Linked DNA regions of Homo sapiens. The protein of the gene in region 2 purifies or fractionates together with the protein of the main gene of each other region. This does not show direct contact. Each region holds a gene or a part of one and is shown on either strand. Other genes may lie near its edges.

Region 1 (3,650 bases), on a different chromosome or scaffold from region 2:
ATGGGTGGGTCGTTTCTTCCACGGACGTCCATCTGTGCCTCTTCCGGGCGAAGCCCAGAACAAGGGCGGAGAGATGAGGAGGACATGGTTCCTGACCTCTTGCGGGTCCAAGCCCCAGTGTCCTCTCTGCTGCAACTGTGCCCCGTCCTCACCCCTGACCGCAGCTGGCTCTTTCCATGTCCGCAGGCCCAGAGGGACTGGTGACCCAAGTGGAGAACGGCGGCGTCCTGGGCAGCCGGAAGGGCGTGAACTTGCCAGGGGCCCAGGTGGACTTGCCCGGGCTGTCCGAGCAGGACGTCCGAGACCTGCGCTTCGGGGTGGAGCATGGGGTGGACATCGTCTTTGCCTCCTTTGTGCGGAAAGCCAGCGACGTGGCTGCCGTCAGGGCTGCTCTGGGTCCGGAAGGACACGGCATCAAGATCATCAGCAAAATTGAGAACCACGAAGGCGTGAAGAGGTGAGGCTTGGGCTCTGTTCCCCTTCGGCCCTGTCGCTATTCCCCATCACCTTTCTTCTCCTGCCTGCCTCTGCCTTGATTCTCCCAACCTCTCAGGTTTGATGAAATCCTGGAGGTGAGCGACGGCATCATGGTGGCACGGGGGGACCTAGGCATCGAGATCCCAGCAGAGAAGGTTTTCCTGGCTCAGAAGATGATGATTGGGCGCTGCAACTTGGCGGGCAAGCCTGTTGTCTGTGCCACACAGGTCTGGAGTGAGGCCTTGAGGTTCGGCACTCTGTGGGTTTTAGGGACACCTGTGGGTGAATACCCACACTGTAGGGGTTTATTTTGTTTTGTTTTGTTTTTTGAGACGGAGTCTCACTCTGTCATCCAGGCTGGAGTGCAGTGGCGCAATCTCCGCTCACTGCAACCTCCGCCTCTTGGGTTCAAACAATTCTCCTGCCTCAGCCTCCCAAGTAGTGGGGATTACAGGTGACCGCCGCCATGCCAGGCTACTTTTTGTATTTTCAGTAGAGACGGGGTTTCACCATGTTGGCCAGACTGGTCTCGAACTCCTGACCTCAGGTGATCTACTCGCCTCGGCCTCCCAAAGTGCTGGGATTACAGGTGTGAGCCACTGCACCCAGCCCACACTGTAGGTTTATAGCACATTTGGATGAAAAGTGTTTGATCCTCAAACGACAAAGTTAAATATACTTTGACCCCTATTTTCAGGGGTTGTGACCAAACGACAAAGTTAAATATACTTTGACTCCTATTTTCAGGGGTTGTGACTGTGACCCTGGATTTTGGGACACTCTGAGAGTGTGGGTGTCAGAGAAGTAGCTTGGGCAGGGTCCCCAGTCACAGTGTGAGTCCTACAACTTTGACATCCACGCTGTCCCCCAGATGCTGGAGAGCATGATTACCAAGCCCCGGCCAACGAGGGCAGAGACAAGCGATGTCGCCAATGCTGTGCTGGATGGGGCTGACTGCATCATGCTGTCAGGGGAGACTGCCAAGGGCAACTTCCCTGTGGAAGCGGTGAAGATGCAGCATGCGGTAGGAGCTCAGAATGAAAAGCAAATGGGCCAGGGAACCAAATCCCTTCCATACCCCAGTGCCCCTTCCCAGACTAACATTCTGGCACCTGCAGATTGCCCGGGAGGCAGAGGCCGCAGTGTACCACCGGCAGCTGTTTGAGGAGCTACGTCGGGCAGCGCCACTAAGCCGTGATCCCACTGAGGTCACCGCCATTGGTGCTGTGGAGGCTGCCTTCAAGTGCTGTGCTGCTGCCATCATTGTGCTGACCACAACTGGCCGGTGAGGGGGATATTGGGAATGTCCAGATGGAGCTTTGGGTCAGGGGTGGGCTGGGACGGGCCCCAGGCTTGGGTTTAGTCTGGTCACCAGGGGTGAAGAGTGTCCACCTGAGACAAGAGGAGAGGCAGCAATGACAGCTGGAGGCCAGGAGAGACAGAATGCCAGTGAGCTTCTGGGGGCTGGAAGGGGACAGCGGCATCACTGGGCACATTGGCTTCAAGGCCATTTGGGCTTCTGGGGCTCAGAGGCAAGTCCATTCGGCCCACAGAGCCTACCAATACTGAGGTATTACAGAAGGGTCCAGTAGGTCTGAGTTTAAGTCTTTACTCAGAAATGTAGCTCTATTAGCCTGCTGTCTTTCCTCATGAACAGGACAAGGTAATGATTTGTTCTTCATGGGGTTGGCAGGATTAACAGGAGATATTAAGTACTAGATAGTACTTAATATCTATATAGTAAATTAAGCACATAATGGACTTTCTCAAAAGGGTTTTATACTCTTGGGTTTTTGTTTGTTTGTTTTGTTTTGTTTTTCTTTTGAGAACGGCAGCTCGCTCTGTTGCTCAGGCTGGAGTAAAATGGTGCAATCTCAGCTCACCACAACCTTCACCTCCCAAGTTCAAGTGATTCTCCTGCCTCAGCCTTCCGAGTAGCTGGGATTACAGGCGCATGCCACAACGCCCTGCATATTTTTTGTATTTTTAGTAGAGACAGGGTTTCATCATGTTAGCCAGGCTGGTCTCAAACTCCTGACCTCAGGTGATCCACCCTCCTTGGCCTCCCAAAGTGCTGGGATTATAGGCATGAGCCACTGTGCCTGGCCAGCTTTTATATTTCTTAAAGAGATTTCTCCTTATTATCTCATTTGATATATCTGTATTATCTCATATCTTTCTTGTGTGGTAGGGAGGGCAGGCATTCTTTCTTTTTTTTTTCTTAATGCAGAGATGGGGTCTCACTATGTTGCCTAGGCTGGTCTCCAGCTCCTGGGCTCAAACAATTCTCCCATCTCGGCCTCCCAAAGTGCTGGGATTACAGGCATGAGCCACCGCTCCCGGCCTGGGAGGCAGGCATTCTTACACTCATTTTACAGGTGAGAACACCAAGGCCCAGAGAAGTATGATGACTTACCCAGGGTCACACAGCTTGTTAGTGACACCTGGAACTGGAACAAAGATTCTCCTTTCCTCGTTCACCACTTTCTTGCTGTTCTGGGCTGACCTTCTCTGCCTCCTCCAGCTCAGCCCAGCTTCTGTCTCGGTACCGACCTCGGGCAGCAGTCATTGCTGTCACCCGCTCTGCCCAGGCTGCCCGCCAGGTCCACTTATGCCGAGGAGTCTTCCCCTTGCTTTACCGTGAACCTCCAGAAGCCATCTGGGCAGATGATGTAGATCGCCGGGTGCAATTTGGCATTGAAAGTGGTGAGCTACCTAGACCTTCCCTGCCACTCCTACCATTTGTATCAGGAGCCCCCCAACCCAGCTTCCCATACCCACTCAAAGGGCCTTGCCTCTCTCCTGTGGTCCCAGGTTTTCCCTGTGAGAGTCACTAAGACTGAGATATCAGTCTGGCATATCACAAATACCTCTTCCATCAGCATAGCCACACAGGCAGACGGCCGTGCTACTTAGCAACACACTCTGCCCTAGCCCACAGATACTCCTGCACCTTTTTTTTTTTTTGAGAGAGAGTCTTGCTCTGTCGCCAGGCTGGAGTGCAGGGGTACGATCTCGGCTCACTGCAATCTCTGCCTCCTGGGTTCAAGTGATTCTCCCACCTCAGCCTCCTGAGTAGCTGGGACTACAGGCATGCGCCACCACGCCTGGATAATTTTTGTATTTTTAGTAGAGACAGGGTTTCACCATGTTGGCCAGGATGGTCTCAATGT
Region 2 (3,750 bases):
TTCAGCCGGCTGGCTGCGCTGTGGACAGGGGCGGCGGAGGACACCGAGAGCGCGCAAAACAGCAGCATCAGTCGGTTCCAAGGAAACTCGGATCTCTGGGGCGTGGGCCGCTGCCAGGGGTTGACACTTGTGTTGTGCGAGGTGCGTGTGCCATTGGTAAAATGGCTTTCTCAGTTTTGGCTTCCCACAAAAGGAGCGGAAGGGGGAGCTGTCATGATTCCCAGTGCCCACAGAGCCCCCTCTCCTGGCCACAGCGCGCCAGCCACAACTGGTACCGAGTGTGCGCGCTCGTCTCTGTGCGTGTCTATTTGTATAACAGTTTGCAAGTGGCTTTCAATCTATCTGTCTGTATGACAGAGACAGAGGCGCCTGCGGAAAGTTCCCTCTCTCAAAAACGCCTTCAGTGTCCTGCTGTATCGCTGGCGCCTACGACGCTGTCATTGTCATCTCATCATTTTGCTTCCTTCCGGGTGATTTATGTACAATTCTGCGTGAGTGAGAAATGCGCGTCTACTGGAGTTGTTTTGTCTGTGACCTTACTTCTTTGAAGAGAGTAAGTGGTTGGAAGGGAAGGAGACCCTGAAAAGGAGTAATGTCCCCTCCAGATTGTAAAATATAATGGTTAAACGCCCAGTATCTCAATGTCTAGACTGAAATCCCTCTCTGCCACTTATACTAGCTGTGTGCCTTGGGCAAATCGTTAATCAATCCGTGCCTCAATTACTTCATTAGCAGAATGGGAAAGCAACAGCATCTAGCTCACAGAGTTGTGAAGATTAAATGAGTGAATATGTAAAACGCTTAGAACTGTGCCTGGCACGTTATTAGGTGCTATAGGTTAAATGCTATTAACATCTTCATCAGTTGCATCACAGTGTTAAATGGAAGGACCATCCTGACCACTTTCTCCACAGGAAAGCACTAGATCTTGATATGTGCCCACGCCCCAGAGCAAAGGCGAGACAGAATCCTAACCCTTTGACTCCGTGCAGTGCAGGACCAGCAGCCACCCAGACACCCCCCGCCCACGCAGACCCTGTTCGGTGAATCCCTCCCCAGCCGCCTGTTCTCTGTATCTGGGGCCACGCTCCGAATGTTGCAAGATGCAATGGCAAACCGCTAGCCCAAGAGAGCTGGCCCCTGCCTCTTCTGTCTGAAGAATGTGTTTGGGGGTTTTCCTACCTGCCCCAGGTTTTTGCCCTTCTTACTGCCGCCGAATGCCAGTCCTTGGTACATGCCCGCAGATCGATTGGCGGCCTGACCAGGCGTCTCCCCGCCCAGAGAGGACTTGATGGAGTTGAGTTTGGCCCGCGAACTGCCGATCTGTGAGCTCTCCACCATCAGCACCGCGGCCAGTAGGAGCAGGCAGCAGGACGAATCCTTGCTCCGCATCAACGCGGCCATCTCCCGGCGAGGGGGTCCCCAGGAAGACGCAAAGCCCGGAGGGGTGGGAATGCAAAGGGAGGGAGGACCCCAACACGGGGCCCCTCACTTGGGTCGCGGGGGCTTGCAGATTGTGTTCCCTCAACCCTTCCTGGTTCGGGGACCCAGGACCCTATGAACTCAGTCTCACGCCTCAGGACAGAAATTAGCGGAACCCAAGCGAGACCCGCTTCTCCACCAGGACAGGAAGTTCTGCAATAACTGGAAGCAATCAAATGCGAGGCGCTTTCTCGCCAAGGAGGCGTGACCCAAGGTGCAAGAAAACCCAGCCCTGTGGATCGCACCGCTTCCGTTCCTTCTTGCCCCGCACCTCCTTGGTCCCGCCGGGATCTCGGCGGTTTAACTCTCCTCTTAATTGATCAGGAGGCCCGCATCAGCTCCTTCTCCTTCAACTCAGTTGCTTTTCTCTCCTCTCTTTTCCTATCCTTTATGTGTCAAACTTTGCAGGACACAGTGCTCCTTTTCAAAGTTAGCAGGCGCTTTAGTAGGGGATCAGGAGACGTCCCCGGACCGAATCCTCGAGATCTGAAGAGAATCGAGGTCCCCCACACGCGCACTCACAGTTGCCCCGAAGCGTTGTCCCCTGACTCACAAGAGACAGCGAATCGCTGCCAGCGCAGCGATGCCTAGGGAGCGGACTTGCGCTACGCTCGCCGCGGGCTCCCGCTTTCTCTCTCTCTGCTCTCTCCCCAGTCCTCTTTGCTTTTTATAGCTTCCCACAGTGAGGACTTTTTTTTTTTTTTTACCTCCGCCCCCAATTCAAGAGTGACAAAGAGTGAAAATTTTTCTCTCACTCCCCACCGCTTCCGCCCCCCTCCTCTCTGCGTGCTGCTTCTGCTTCTGCGGCTTTCACTCCAGCTTTTCCTCCTCCTCATCCTCCCGCTCTGTCTCCACCCACAACTACTGGAAAAGGGGGATCTAGCTTTTCCATGAGGTGAATGGAACATAGGGGCTCCTAATTCCTGACAACAACTCCAGCGGTTGGAGGGGTCTTTGGAAACTGGCAGAGACCAAAGGTGGAAACGGAGTGGGGCAAGCTGACACCACTTGATCGCTGCCACCCTTTCTTAGATCTTCCCACCCATCTTCAGCCCCTGACTCCGCGAGGAGAGCTGGAAAAGCCCTATGGAAGCTTTAGAGAAGTGAGCATCTGCGCATCTGCTCATTAGTATTGTGTTCTTTGTGAGCTCACGTTTGGTTTTAGACTGTGCCTCCCAGGGAGTGTGTGAAGCTGGAGCCACATAGGTGCGCCAGGGGGTGGCCAATGATCCGGATAGAGGGTCTGGAAGGAAAGGGGCAGACCAAAGAGGGGAAAAGATGAGCCTGTTCGATTTGGGTCTTTTTAGTCTCCTCCTTCGGAACCCCGGGCCCCGCCGCACTCGTAGAATATGTCTATGTCTCTGAGGGACTGGGAAGAAGGGGATGCTCTGGGTACGCTCCAAGGGTTTGGACCTCACAGCTCGAATGAGCATCTTTACCATGCCAGGCAACTGCTCTTTTTGCGAATAGGAAATCCCAGATAGGAATGAACGGGGGCAGGGAGCCTTTGAGATCCTGTCTTCCTTGGCTTCCTGCCTTCTAGCCCCAGTGAATTACAAGAGAAGCCATTCCTGTCAGCCCCCGGGTCTCTCCAGGTCCAATTCCCTTCGGCCGAAGGTCGAAGGCTGCTCCGGGAACGACTGGGACGCGCTGGCGCTTGGGGGCGCCAGTGGCAGCCGTTCAGCGAGCCACGGAATTGCTGCAGGAGACAAGCGCTGAGTTCGGTGATGTCTGGTGGCCAAGTGCGAGACTTTCCAAGCAAAGCAAGGGATTGTTCGAAAGTTATTGCATTTCTGCTTCGCAGACACTAATGTCCAGGAGCAGAGAAATCCAAGCATTGAGCCACAACTTGAAGTTAGAAGGCAGCTAGCCGCCAGGGGAGGATACAAGCAGCATCCTCTTCAGAATTTTTGGACCTAGATTTCACAGCTTTCACACCTGATCCTGGCGCATGTCCATGAGTACGAATTAAACTTGTCGCTAAGTGAGAACGTTGGTGACTCTTATTTTCCCCCAAAACAACGCAGAGTTCTAAAGTGTGGATTTAGAGCTATTTTCTCCCAGACAGCTCCAGTTTTGCAAATTTCTCAGTCCTGACCTATGAGTCTGTCTGCCCTGAAATTCTTCATTTTCAGATTTTTTTTTTAATACACAAGGAAACGGGGATTAAAATATGCACCCTCTGGCATGTGTTCTTATCTTTTGAATTTCCTTTCTTTAAGGTAGAGATTTTTCACATTTTAGTGTGTGGGGTTTTTTTTCCACTTT
Region 3 (3,650 bases), on a different chromosome or scaffold from region 2:
ACTTTGTACATCTCCATGGTAACTGGCTTATAAAGCAAGAATATGGTTTCCAGATACATGAGTTTCTATTAATACGCTACAGTCTAAAACAAGTTTGTCCAACCTGTGGCCCACAAGCCATATGCAGCCCAGCATGGCCTGGAATGTGGCCCAACACAAATTCATAAACTTTCTTAAAACATGAGTTTTTTTTATTTTTTTGCATGGTTTTTTTTTTTTTTTTTAGCTCATCAGCTATCGTTAGTGTTATTTTATGTGTGGCCCAAGACAATTCTTCTTCCATTGTGGCCCAGAGAAGCCAAAAGATTGGACATTCCTGGTCTAAAGCAAGGACTGCCTGTTGTTTCTTTACTTAACTGTACATTTTTTAGATTTTGACTTAATTCTGTAAATACTTGTATATTTAGATAATGTAAAAACTGTTATTTAGTTCTAGAAACCTTAATTTCTTATTTGCCCCTGATTAGTCACTTGGACTATAGACAATCAAAAGTGATAGTAATCATTTGAGAAGGCCAGGTGCAATGGCTCATGCCTGTAATCCTAGCACTTTGGGAGGCTGAGGTGGGCAGATCACTTGAGCTCCGGAATTCAAGACCAGCCTGGGCAACATGGCAAAACCCGTCTCTATAAAAAATACAAAAATTAGCTTGGTGCAATGGTGTACATCCGTGGTCTCAGCTACTCAGGAGGCTGAGGTGGGAGGATCATCTGAGCCCAGGAGATCATGCCTCTGCACTCCATCCTGGGCAACAGAGTGAGACCCTCTCTAAAAAAATTGCCGGGTCCAGTGGCTCACCCCTATAATCCCAGCACTTTGGGAGACTGAGGTGAGCAGGTCACCTGAGGTCAGGAGTTCGAGACCAGCATGGCCAACATGGCGAAACCCCGTCTCTACGAAAAATAAAAAATTAGCGGGGTGTGGTGGCAGGCACCTGTAATCCCAGATATTGGGAGGCTGAGGCATGAGAATCACTTGAACCCAGGAGGCAGAGGTTCCATTGAGCCGAGATGGCACCACTGCATGTCAGCCTGGGTGACAACATTGAAACTAGCCCCCCAAAAATAAAAATAAAATTTAAAATAAATTTTAAAATAAATTTTTAAGTAAATGTTTAGGGGAAATGAGTTTTCAACTTAAGCTAAACAGAATAAACTTAGATAAAGTAGGTGAAATACAGATATCTCTAAAAAATTTCAGAATCCTAAAGGCAATGTAGTTCAGAAGATTTTATTGGAAATACTAGAGAGAGTGTTGAGGAGGAAAAGGAAGTTGAAATGGACTTGATAAAATAACTTGATAAAATAACCTGAAACTGATCACCTTGCAAATTTGAATTTATCTGACTTAGCTTTCTATTATTCATTCAATAGCACGAATTCTATTGCAGATCTGATTATAAGCTCAGGTCTGTAAAAGCTGTGGAAAACAAAACAGTTCAGATTGTCTTGAATCTAGAGTTTGCTTTCCAAGACTCTCCCTCTAAACCTGTTAACTCTTAAGAAATCCTCTTGCCTTTCCCTAGTGAGTATACAAAATACCTACTACAGTTACTGGCACATGTTACCAGCAAACCAGCCCCTGTGCCCTTCATATTCTTGCCAACACTAAGAACAAACTATTTAATCTGTCTCACTGTTGTTTTCGTTTGGTGAATACATTTCAAAAAGGTTATAATGTATAAAGTTTGTACAAACTCTTTTTTTTTTTTTTTTTTTTTAAGGTATGATGAGTGGGTGAAGGCTGACAGGATAATCTGGCCTTTGGACAAAGGTGGACCAAAGAAAAAACAGAAGAAAAAAGCTAAAGTATGTTTGTAGATTTATGTCCTTTATAATATGTATAGGAATTATCCAAATTGTATTGTGTGTTTTTTAAGACTTTAAGAACAGTTTTAGGTTTATACCAAGATTGAGAGCAAGGTATATAGACCTCCCATATACTCTCTGCCCCATGCATGCATAGCCTTCCCAGATTGTCAACATCCCCCACCAGAGTGGGATGTTTGTTACAACTGATGTGCCTACATTGACACATTATTGTCACTCAGAGTCCATCGTTTACATTAGGGTTCACTGTTGGTGTTGTATATTCTGTAGGTTTTGACAAATATATAATGACATGGATCCATCACTATAGTATCATACAGAGTAGCTTTACTGCCCTAAAAATCCTTTATGTTCTGCTTATTCTTACCCCCACCCCAGCCCCTGACAACTACAGACTTTTTCTCTCTCCATAGTTTTTGCCTTTTTGAGAATATCATATAATTGGAATCATACACCATATAGCCTTTTTAGATTGGCTTCTTTTGCTTAGTAATATGCATATACGATATTGTGTTTGTTTAATAAATCTTATTGTAATAATCATCTTGGCCGGGCATGGTGGCTCATGCCTGTAATGCCAGCACTTTGGGAGGCTGAGGCGGGCGGATCACGAGGTCAGGAGATCAAGACCATCCTGGCTAACACGGTGAAACCCCATCTCTACTAAATATAGAAAAAATTAGCCGGTCGTGGTGGCCGGCGCCTGTAGTCCCAGCTACTCGGGAGGCTGAGGCAGGAGAATGGCGTGAACCCAGGAGGCGGAGCTTGCAGTGAGCCAAGATCGCGCCACTGCGCTCCAGCCTGGGCGACAGAGCAAGACTCCGTCTCAAAAAAAAAAAAAAAAATCTTGATTCTTGACAGATAATTGTGATTTTCTCTTTATAACCCAGGAGCTTAAAACTAACACATTACCACATTGTTTCAGCAAAGGTGAAAACCAGCAACCCCTAGGGCATGACTTTCAAACTCAAATTCCTGTAGAGGCTTTATAGGAGAAGGATAAAGTAGGACGAACCGTGACAAACGAGAGGTCACATTCCTCATTTAGACGGAATGGAACTAACCACTCTGCTGTGGGAATGCAGACCCAGGGTTGCCAGATTTTAGGATTTTTCAAGACCACTATCTTTCTTAAAATGTGAAATTTGACTTTTAAATGCTAGAAGCCAATACTAAAATTTTAAAACACATATATACTGGCCAATTGTACCCTCACCCACATCCTCAGTTGTCAAGCTTTGCTGTAGAGATTTGCCCATTGTTTTGTCTACTGGATGATAGATATCTTTCCTTTCTGCAGGGGATAGTAGGGAACAGCGGGGAGTGCGGAATAGTTGTATAGTCTTCTAAAGCTCTAACTGACCATCACAATATAATTGCAGTATTACAAATTGTACAATATTGTATTTACATAAATACAAAATATGTTAGAAATTCAGCAGTGGAGGATTATATACCAATTTCCGTGACACTAATGTTAATAAGTTCTGATAACCTCTCAGACCAGCCAGAAAACTCTTCTTGATTCTTCTGTAAGCACAGACTAGGAAGTGACATATAAAATATCAAACCTTTTTTGAGATGTAGTTTTCTTTGGATAAGTAGAATGTTCATTTTTCGTAAAGCATTGGCCCTTCTCATACATTTTGTTGTTGTTGCCCAGAATAAAGAAGATAGTGAAAAGGACGAAAAGAGAGATGAGGAGAGGCAGAAGTCAAAACGGGGACGACCTCCTTTAAAATCAACCCTCTCATCAAACATGCCGTATGGCTTATCTAAGACAGCAAACAGTGAAGGAAAATCAGGTACCAGAAGTGCTC

Evidence for each region.
Region 1: the proteins of DKK2 (region 2) and PKLR purify together in Homo sapiens (affinity purification with mass spectrometry; one large-scale study listed by BioGRID and IntAct). This does not show direct contact.
Region 3: the proteins of DKK2 (region 2) and ARID4A purify together in Homo sapiens (affinity purification with mass spectrometry; one large-scale study listed by BioGRID and IntAct). This does not show direct contact.

Annotation. Positions count from the first base shown.
Region 1 is NC_000001.11:155,291,289-155,294,938, reverse strand, and holds part of PKLR (pyruvate kinase PKLR), read left to right. Parts: intron 1-186; coding exon 187-457; intron 458-553; coding exon 554-704; coding exon of another isoform or gene 705-724; intron 725-1,348; coding exon 1,349-1,501; intron 1,502-1,595; coding exon 1,596-1,762; intron 1,763-3,001; coding exon 3,002-3,183; intron 3,184-3,650. UniProt on the Homo sapiens protein: Pyruvate kinase that catalyzes the conversion of phosphoenolpyruvate to pyruvate with the synthesis of ATP, and which plays a key role in glycolysis.
Region 2 is NC_000004.12:107,034,188-107,037,937, forward strand, and holds the start of DKK2 (dickkopf-related protein 2 precursor), read right to left. Parts: upstream 2,127-3,750; 5' UTR 1,405-2,126; coding exon 1,183-1,404; intron 1-1,182. UniProt on the Homo sapiens protein: Antagonizes canonical Wnt signaling by inhibiting LRP5/6 interaction with Wnt and by forming a ternary complex with the transmembrane protein KREMEN that promotes internalization of LRP5/6.
Region 3 is NC_000014.9:58,357,408-58,361,057, forward strand, and holds part of ARID4A (AT-rich interactive domain-containing protein 4A), read left to right. Parts: intron 1-1,724; coding exon 1,725-1,809; intron 1,810-3,493; coding exon 3,494-3,635; coding exon of another isoform or gene 3,636-3,650.